2 linked regions of the Homo sapiens genome follow. The protein of the gene in region 2 interacts with the protein of the main gene of each other region in a biochemical or structural test. Each region holds a gene or a part of one and is shown on either strand. Other genes may lie near its edges.

What was found.
Region 1: the proteins of INHBB (region 2) and ACVR2A form a complex in vitro, tested with the Homo sapiens proteins (one study listed by BioGRID).

Annotation. Positions count from the first base shown.
Region 1 is NC_000002.12:147,916,769-147,922,014, reverse strand, and holds part of ACVR2A (activin receptor type-2A isoform 1 precursor), read right to left. Parts: intron 4,733-5,246; coding exon 4,589-4,732; intron 3,569-4,588; coding exon 3,423-3,568; intron 1,786-3,422; coding exon 1,671-1,785; intron 1-1,670. UniProt on the Homo sapiens protein: On ligand binding, forms a receptor complex consisting of two type II and two type I transmembrane serine/threonine kinases.
Region 2 is NC_000002.12:120,348,361-120,353,274, reverse strand, and holds the end of INHBB (inhibin beta B chain preproprotein), read right to left. Parts: intron 4,177-4,914; coding exon 3,401-4,176; 3' UTR 1,472-3,400; downstream 1-1,471. UniProt on the Homo sapiens protein: Inhibins and activins inhibit and activate, respectively, the secretion of follitropin by the pituitary gland.

The DNA of each region.
Region 1 (5,246 bases), about 28 Mb from region 2:
TGGTTTATTTACCATGTTGACATAAAATGTTCCCTCTTTTATATGTGTTCTTTGTACTATATAAAATGTGCAATAACATGCAAGTCCCTCCAAATATTTCTGAAATTTTCTGGTCCATGAAATCTAAAGTCAAGGAGTCATTACTGTAAGCCAATAATTTTTAACTAATCATAAAACCCAGTTGTGAAGGAGTTAAAAATATGACATGAATGAGTCAGAAATTTTTTTTCTCAAAAAATGAGGGAGGGCTTATGAGGTACCAAATTAAGAATATGTTCCCAGAATTTAGTCTTATGATAGTCTATCATTCAATTAGCTTAGAAGTTTGTCCTCAGGCTTCCTACACAATCTTGGTAGTATTCTCCACAAAATTGCCTCCATTCCCATACACATTTGCAGTCAACTTTTCTAGAGCTATATGGCTACTGACCATTACCCCAAACTACATTCTTAAATAGTTAGTCAATACTGCCAAAATTGGTGGTGCCATGACATTAAAAACGTGTCCTCAGGAACCAATAGGATATGCTGGGGAAAAGAAACCTAAGAATTAGTTGGCCAAATAATTTACATGATATGAAAGATGAAGAAATGATAATGTCGAAGGCCTGAACCATTTAGCTTTGTAGAAAATGTCACCTTTTAGGTTGAACTGGTTTCCCTGATTAAAAGGTGATCTTGGCTGGGCGTGGTGGCTCACGCCTATAATCCCAGCACTTTGGGAGGCCGAGGTGGGAGGATCACTTGAGGTCAGGAGCTCGATACAAGCCTGGCCAACTTGGTGAAACCCCATCTCCATTAAAAATACAAACATTAGGCTGGGCATGGTGGTGCATGTGTGTAATCCCAGCTACTCAGGAAGCTGAGCCAGGAGAATCACTTGAACTTGGAAGGCAGAGGCTGCAGTGAGCCAAGATCATGCCACTGCACTCCAGCCTGGGTGACAGAGCGAGACTCTGTCTCAAAAATAAATAAATAAATAAAAATAAAAGGTGATCTTGCAGGAATGAAAACATCTTTTCCAGCCTCAAAGTTTCTGAGAATAAACTGTATGGATAATGTTCTTTTCCCTTTTGGCCTTCCTAGAGGTTCCCATTACTAAGATTTCTGTGCATATGGATATATACAGAGGTGTGAAGAGTTACCTAATTCAGGGGTTTACAAGTGCTCTGAACTCTGGAGAGAATTTGGAGAAAAGCCATCAAGTTGATTAAAGAAATTAATGAAGCAATAAACAACAAGAAGCAATAAACTATTATTGCATGGGAAAATGGACAGGAAATCTTAATACACTGTAGTAAGGACAGTGACTAATTATTCTTCCACTCTTCTTAAGATGGTGAAAGAACTAACAGACTAAAACTACGGAGTTCATACGAAGAATTCCCTAAGAATGAGGTCTGTTAAAAGGTGGTGGATTATTCTTTGATCAATTTTTCAAAAAGAATCCTATGACGTGTGTCTAAGGGTTGCTTTACGAAGTGCTTGATCTAAACCACCTGAGTCCTCTACCATCATATGAAAATGTCTTCCTCAGAAACTTTGATAACTCTATTAGATGCTGATTTAAACACCACAACAATTTTAGACTAATTCAGTCCTGACATGCCATTCTAAGAAAATATGGAACAAGTTTATTTTTTCTTACATTTTATAATCATCATCCTTACCTGTCCATGGGTATCGCCTGCAGACTTGCCAGCCTCAAATTTTAAGGCCAACCCAAAGTCAGCAATGCAAGCTGTCAGGTTGTTTTTCAACAGCACATTTTTACTTTTGATGTCCCTTGCAAATAAAAAGAGTATTCAAATTAAGTTTAAACTAGTTACCTTTTTAAATTTTTTATTGAAAGCAGAAAAGGGGGAATATGTACACTATGAAAAAATAGTTACTTAAAATTATGAAATGCAGAGAAAGTGAGACAAACAAAGCTCAGAGCCCCATGCAGCCTTAAACACAAGAGCACGGTGACAAACCCCTATTCATAACATGGACAATAAGAAGGAATCCTACCTATAAAGCAGTTATATAAAAATCTGCCATACCAAAAAGATATGTTATCTATGTCACCCACCTACCAATCATAAAACTACTGTTAATATCTCAGAGTTCTGATTTGCAAACTCCCATAGAAACAGAAATTTTAAACCAAAATGAAGAAACTTTTAAAAAATAGCTGAATTGGGGCCTTCTGCTTATTGGTAGAGACCTACATTTTAGAATAATCCCTTATTATAGAGGTTCTTATATTCTTCCACCTGGTTGTAGAAAAGCATCTTATGGAATGAATAACAGAAACTTTTTACCATAAACATACACTGCTCTAGCTAGATCCTGGTGTTCTGAAAAGGGTAACAGTTTTAAGGCAGTAAGATATCCTCTTCTACACACCTGTCTCAACTGGCTCATCCTAGAGATTACTATACCCTAGTTAAATACATCTATGCCAATGACTAGTGGTTAAATTTATGTGCAGACATATAGACCAATAATGGGATACTGAAAGCACAAGCAGACACTCCCAAATGCTATAAAAGCTAATCGATCTTAGTTTCAAAAGACTTTCAGGCCCTTAATAACTTTGGGGGTCCTTAAGGATTAATTCCCTATGTGACCAGGTAGGGCAAGGGAAAATCGAAGACGAGGCCAATAGACTGCATGTAAGAAAGTGAGAAGAGTTATTTCTGAGGTAGACGTCATTTAAAGTTTGCAAAATCAGAACCTAAATTAGAGGCTGACTTACAATAATGCCTCCCAGCAACCTAAAACATCGCCTGGTGGCACTCAGCTAAGTATCTGTTCTGTGAATCAGTTAATGCCTACTTTTCAAACAACCATCTTTAAATGGAACACAAGACAACAAATTGAATCCCACGTTCAAGAAAATTAAATACATGGCAAACTGAATTCCATGTTTAAGACACAATCATTTTTCCTTTTGCGGGCATGACAACTGTTGGGTCTAAGTAGTATTTCTTCACTGGACAACTGTTTTAAGTGATGCCTCCCTTTAAGACTTGGCTCAGGGTACAGATAAGGTCATTCAAAAAACAAGCAAGGAAGACATTCAAAGTCTCTCCTTCATTACATGCCCTTGGATAATAATCCCTATTGATAAATCATGTTTTGAGGTAAAACAAATGTCTTTTTCCTTTGAGATCGAGAAAATATAGTTTATTTTCAATCATGCTTTCAGAAATGAGATGAAGTAGATCATTAAACTTTACCAATAATGTTAACATATACATTATCCAAAATACTTCCTGGCCAATCTCAAAGCTAATTTTAAAAAACAAATGAAAACTGACTGTCTTGTAAAGCATGATTGCATAACAAAGGAAAAATTAAAATTTACCCAGGGGCTTAAAAGTTTAGTAAATATATACTCAATTATCTGGGAAAACAATATAAATTTAGTCTACCTGTGAGATATGGCAGGTTTGTGGCCATCTTTTAGGCCAGGTATATCCTCATGTAAATATGCCAATCCTCTAGCCATGGTTTCTGCAATATGACACAGTTCATTCCAAGAGACCACATTAGCCTTAAGAAAGTCTGATAGTGAACCCTAAAAAAAGAGGGAAAAAAAGAAACTTATGTTCTTGACAAAGGCCATATGTATAAGGAGACTTTTCTTTTTACCTATAAGAGGTTGTGAGTTTCCCTTTCAGGGAAAAATAATATCCAAGAAACAATCTTTCTGGAATGGTTCAAATGGTTCAAATTTCCTTCCATTTCACATTAATAAACATTTGACCAGAAGGAAATACCAGAGCTTTAAACTTTTGTTACAAGAATAGTCAACTTCCACCAATCTATAAGACAAGTTTGTTTTTTTTTTTTTTTAAAGACTAGTTGAAAATCTAAGGTTCTAGAAAATATTTTAAAAGTTAAAATATCCTGACTATAGAGTTGTTATATCATGGGACTAGCAGAACACAAAATAACAACATAAAATAACAACTAATATGTAGAATATTCCTCTAGATTATTGTTGTCCTTTAGGTCAAGATAAGAGAAGTAAAAGAACCACTTACATTTCACAATGATGAAACCAATTACCAAAAACATAATTTCCTACTTCATTAATGGTACTTTCACACTGACTCTAAAAGTAGAAAAATTGAGGAAAACTAGCAATTACATTTTGGTGATAATTACCCTGCAAGTTAGTGACAGATCAAAGATCAGATAAATTTCCTGACTCTGGTTTTGTCACAAGCAAGACTGATTAAAACTTAAAAAAATGGTTCACGTAATCAAAATGAATTGTAAATGGTAAATGAAAATTACTAAGCATTACCTACACTAAAATAAATGTTTGTAAGAGTAATTACAGCACAAGAAATAAGGAACAAAAGGGTGGTTTATATGAGTAGAGTTTTAGGTTAAAAAGTTGCCATCTTTGCTCTTTTATTAAAATAAACTACCTTTTAAAACATTTTTATTCAAGAATGATTTTTATTTTCAGGTTAAATATTAATCAACTATAAGATGTCTCGAAAAATAACTCTGAGGGATTTATAGCCAGCATTAGGTAGGCAGGCCAACTCAGACTTTACTAAAGTAAAACGTTAAGTAGTTTTACCTTTTCATGAAATGCTGTGATCAGCCAAAGATCCACATCAACACTGGTGCCTCGTTTTTCTGCACCAATGAACTGTAATATGTTCTCATGCTTCATTCCAGGCAAACTGTAGACTTCGTATTCATTTTGCCATGACTGTTTGTCCTAGAGTCAAAAAGAAAGAATAGTAAGAACACAAGGAATACAGGTTTAATAAACCATGCATAAGAGATTACTCAAATAAGTTCCAAAGTAAAACAAAACAAAACAAAAAAGTCTTAAAAAATTTTTTGTTCTGTTTTGTAATAAGAAAAAGCTCTGACAATAGGTTAACAAATTTATACTAAATGCCTGCCCTTTTCATTCCCTCAAAACGTACTTTTCTGTGTTTCTAGTTTACAAACACAGAAGGTGATCGGAAATGCTGCATTCTGTGTCTTACAATGGCAACACGTAAGTTACTGCAAGTATTACACTGTAATTTCATCATGGTGTGAAGTTACTTGTGGTACTATTCAGAATAATCTCCTTGAAAGATGAAATTCCGGCAGAATGACTTCCTCTAAATAGAAAACTTCTTCTTTTCAAAAACTAACATAATATCAAACATCCTTCAAAAAATGTTTAGCATACCCTACAAGGTCTATGAGAAAGCAAGGGGCAAAGATATGCAATGCAA
Region 2 (4,914 bases):
CTGCCTCTCTCAGCAACAGGAACTGCTGCCCACCAGTGCCCCCGGGGGCCAGACCCCACAGGGACAGGAGCCAGCATAGGGCAGCAAAGTCACTCAGGGACCAGGTCAGCCAGCCCCAAGGCCTTGTGCCCCTGGGGTCCCCAGGCCCTTCCTGGGGCTACTCATGGGGCCATCCTGGGATGCTCAGTCCAGAAGGGCTTTGGTAGGTGCTCAATGTCCAAACAGCAGAAGCAACTCAGTGGCTCACATCGCACCTCCTGGCCGCTACCTGAAAAAAGTCCCAGGGCAGCGGGGAGGCAGGGCTGGGCTGAGGGCCTAGTGCCACCAGCAGCTAGGCCCAGCCCCCCGCAGAGCAGAGGGCAGAGACGTCGTGACTCACTGCCTGAAATGCACAGGCCAGACCTGTCTTTATGACACTTTCTTCTTTGCCCCTGTGAATTACAGTAATACTGTCTCACAACTTCACAGATGACCAGTCTTCCCCTCGGGCTGAAAGCCTGGCAGGGCAGTAGCTCCCTTGGTTGGGCAAAGAATGGAAAAAGAAAAGGCTAGAAGGCTGCCTCCTGCCACCAGCTGGCTGTGCTGATTGAGCTATACCCCTCTAGCTGTCTGGGCCTCCCTCGGTTTCCCACTACCTTGATGAGGTTACATGCTCTCTAAAGTGCCATGTGCTCTGGGAAGACCACATGCTACCCAAACCCCAGGGCGGAGCCCCAGCAGCCCTGCAGGGCCTCAGACAAAGGCAAGGGCACAGGGCTGCAGTCCTCCAAGGAAACGGGTGGGCTCAAACACCAGGGTCCCTGTCCTGGATGTCTGACCTCAGGCAGGCTCTGAACTCTCTAAGCCTCAGATTTTCAAACTCTGGGAAATGCAGACAAAGCCACTTTCCACAAAGATGCGATGCTGCATGGTAACAGCAGGACTCGGCGGGTATCCCAGTTACACCTGCGCAGTGGGCCATTATTACTACACCGCCCCTACCACCACTCTCCACCGGGAAAACCCCCTCAGGAAGGGCTCCTTCGTACACTCACAGCCTGACTCTGTTTACCCTTCTATCCCAAGATACCAAGCCACTTCTAGGTCCCAGTCACCTCCAAATAGAGGTGAGCAGAGGTTAGCTGGACTTCAGCCTTCAGGGTTTTACATTTCCACCTGGGGACGGGGGCTTACCCAGCACTTGCAAATGGTAATGGATGTGGCCTTGGTGAAACATAATCAATCTTGGGACTAGCAGGATAAACAAATGTGTAATTCATGAATTTGCTAATTGTCCTTCATTTTGATCTTCAGCCATTTTTCCTGGAATCTCTGCCCGACATACATCTCATGGCAAGGACGCAGAGATGCCAGGAGCAGGCCGTGGAAGCTGCTGGCATCCAACCTGGACACCTGGACTGGCCTTCCTCCCAGCTGCCCACCTCCAGCCCAGGCCTCCCTGCCCCAGACATCACGCAAGGCAGGAGGCCCGTGGCACTCAATCTTTTATTTTCTTAAACTGTACACAAACGTACAATACTTTAACAGCAAGTCTATGGGAAAATTGTTTGGTTTTAAATTATTATGAAACAGAATCTAAGGGGAGCTTTATTAAATAAACATAAAGATGAGGATTTAAGGATACACACCTGCATTCTATCATAGTCATTTTTACTCTACCTTCTGGGTGTGTAAGGATGGAAAAGACACATCAAACCGAATAAACAAAATCCATTCATACCCTGAAACGTTGGCAGGCCACTCAAGGGACTGCTCAGAACGTCCACCTCATCTCAGATGGCCTCACCGTCTAATAAAATTAAAACTGATCTGTTGGCCTCTTTGGTTCCAAAATTATGTATAATACATTTAACTGTATTCTTTTTTTTTTTTTTTTGCTGCTATAAAAATAACTTTTTTTCAAATGGCAGTTTCTGACTAATCATGCAACTAAATCAGTGCAAACATTAAAAGCAATCATTCGCTTAAAAAAGAAGCAAAGGATTTCATTTCAAGTATAAAAAATATAAAAAGAGTCGTACGAGTCCAGTTTCGTCTAGTGTGGGTCAACCCTTTAAATTGCATAGTTCACGTGGCACTTGGACATCTAGAGGGCGAGCGAGTTCGGCGCTCGGCCAAGGGCCACTTCTGGACACACGCAGATCGGCAAGTGCTATGTCATGTGCGTTCAGGCAGGTCTGCAAGTGCTATGCGGGCGGGCGGGCAGGCGGGCAGGTGAGTGGGCAGGGGCCACGTCCACGGCCAGCCCTGATGGCTGGGGCCCACATGGGCAACTTCTGCAAATCAGCTGAAAGCCTTCCCCATCTCTCCAAGACCAACTAGGCTGCTCCCCTCCCTTGGCCTCCGCTGAGGGGACACCCCCCATCCTCAGCAGTTCAAGAATGCCTCCTCCCCGCCATTTCCTCCTGCGGTCTCATCCCCTTGCCTAGGGGTCATTCCCACCCGTCCCCAAACCAGTCCTAGAGGAATGTCCCCAATGAAGGGCACAGATTGCAACTTTTTTTCTTTCCATTTAGAACAATTCAGATTTTCACTTAAAAGGTCATACCTGGTAGAAAAGTCCTTTTTCAGTTATACAACTGGCAAGGATGACCTGTCAACTGTTGGAGATCAGTTAAAGCATCAAATTTAGCCCCCTCTTCTCTCCCTCCCTCCCCACCCCAAAAACACACACACACATAAGTCATGTCAGAGGCCCAAGCCACAAACAGTCAAACGGTCATTGCCCCTGCTCCCAGGTCTCTGACGGGTTGTGTCCTTTCTGGGTCTCTTTCCCTCGACAAGGGCATGGAAGGACAGGCTCCCCAGGCCTTGAAGCACGAAGGATCCCAGGCTGGGGAAGAAGCAGACATCGAGCCAGGCAGAGCAGGCCTGGTAAAAGCCACGGGGCACACGCAGCCTCCGCCGAGCTGCGCTCCCCACCCCTGCATCTGCTTTTCCTCTCCGTGGCTCTCTCTCTCTCTCTGCGTCTCTGTCTTTGTGCTTTTATGTGTGCTCGGAAGGCGCAATTCAGAGTGGCCGGGCCAGCTGGTGGGAATGGTGGCTGCTCACCCCATTCTCTCCGACTGACAGGCATTTGTAGCTAAGCTGCCATTTGTCACCGCATCCATTTGCTGGTATCCTGGAGGCTGCTGTGTGGGTGGCAGGATGCGTCTGGCTGTGCGTGGCTACGTGTGCATTTTAAAGTATTTCATGTCAGTTGAGGGTTCTCGCTCTGGTTTTGACTGGTTGCTCTATGAAGCTGTAGAAAAATATCTCAGGCCGCACCCTGGCACTATCTCCACAGCCCAACAGAATGACTGTACTCAGCCCACCGTGTACCCCCGTTCCCGCGGGGGCTGGAAGAAGCCCACCCGGGACTGCCCTCCGTGCCCCACCACCGTGCCCCTGCCTTGCACTGTCAGGCGCAGCCGCACTCCTCCACAATCATGTTGGGCACGTCCCGCTTGACGATGTTGTACTCATCATCGAAGTACAGCATGGACATGGTGCTCAGCTTGGTGGGAATGCAGCAGGAGTTCACCGTGCCGGGGTTCAGACCCCGCATGCGGTACTGGTTCACCACAGCCGTGTGGAAGGAGGAGGCAGAGCCGGGGACCCCTGCCAGGTAGGCTGGGCAGCTGCCCTCACAGTAGTTCCCGTAGTAGCCGGTGGGTGCTATGATCCAGTCGTTCCAGCCGATGAGGCGGAAGTCAATGAAGAACTGTTGCCTGCAACAGAGGTTGGTCCGGCCATCGCACTCCAGGCCTCGCTTGCGAATGCGGTGCCTGCTGTCGCCCAGCCGAGCCTGCACCACCACAAAGGGCCGGTGCGACTCTTCGCCTGGGTCCACGAACACCGGCACCACGGCCAGCTCCTGGCAGCTGTCACACTGCACGTCTAGGTTGAGTCGCCGCTCGCCCCGCTCAAACAAGGCCTGGATGGCCTCCGTGAGTGGGAAGGTATGCCAGCCGCTGCGCTTGAGGTCCACCCTCTTCTCCACCATGTTCCACCTGTCACCGTGGCCCTGCTCCTGGAAGTACACTTTGACCCGCACCTTCCGCCGGCTGCCCTTCTCCAGGACGTAGGGCAGGAGTTTCAGGTAAAGCCACAGGCTGGCCTGGACCACAAACAGGTTCTGGTTGCCTTCGTTGGAGATGAAGAAGTATAGGCGGACCCGGGAGGAGGCGAGGCCATCTGCGGAAAAGGGGAAGGGCGAGCCAAGTTAATTCAAGGAGAACACAAGGCAATGGGGGAAACACACTCTCTGCTGCAGGATGCTGGAATGCAACTCGCCACACAGCTGGAAAACGTTACTGACCAGAAATACCATTCTTGGGGCCAGGGCCTCTGACTGTAACCTGGGAGAGGCAGAGAAAATCGTTTCTCATTGAGAAACCCGGACCAGGCTGGGGCTGGAGGGTCCGCGCCTATAAAATCCTGCCTCACCTCTCCCAGGCCAGGGCTCCCTGGAGACAGGCTGTCAGGCCTCAAAGCACAACAGAAGAACTTGTCAGGGGGCCAAGATCTTAACAAGTTGTTATGGGTATCTGTGAAATCTGAAAAACAAAACCAGGATCGCAGGGAGGATTTTGGGGTGGGTGGTTTTAGTAGGGCTTTTTTTTTTTTTTTTTTTTTTGGTTAACTTAGCGCATTGCAAAATCAAGCTGAGCCACCTACCGCCTCTTTCCAGTGTTTACCTAAGTATGATGTGATCCAACCCCCAGTGGAACCTCCACTGCAAACAAGCAGGCTCTGCTCAGGTTTCTGACATAGGAACGTGTGCTTTGCAGGCTGCAGAGCCTAGCCCTTATAGAATAGTTTCAAGGGACAGGACATTCAGCCTTAAAACTTGAGGTCCAATCCTTTGACAAGACTCTGGCTCCCTGTTAATGGCACGTTCAAAATCCCCAAGGAGTAGGGGAGCTGGCTAGT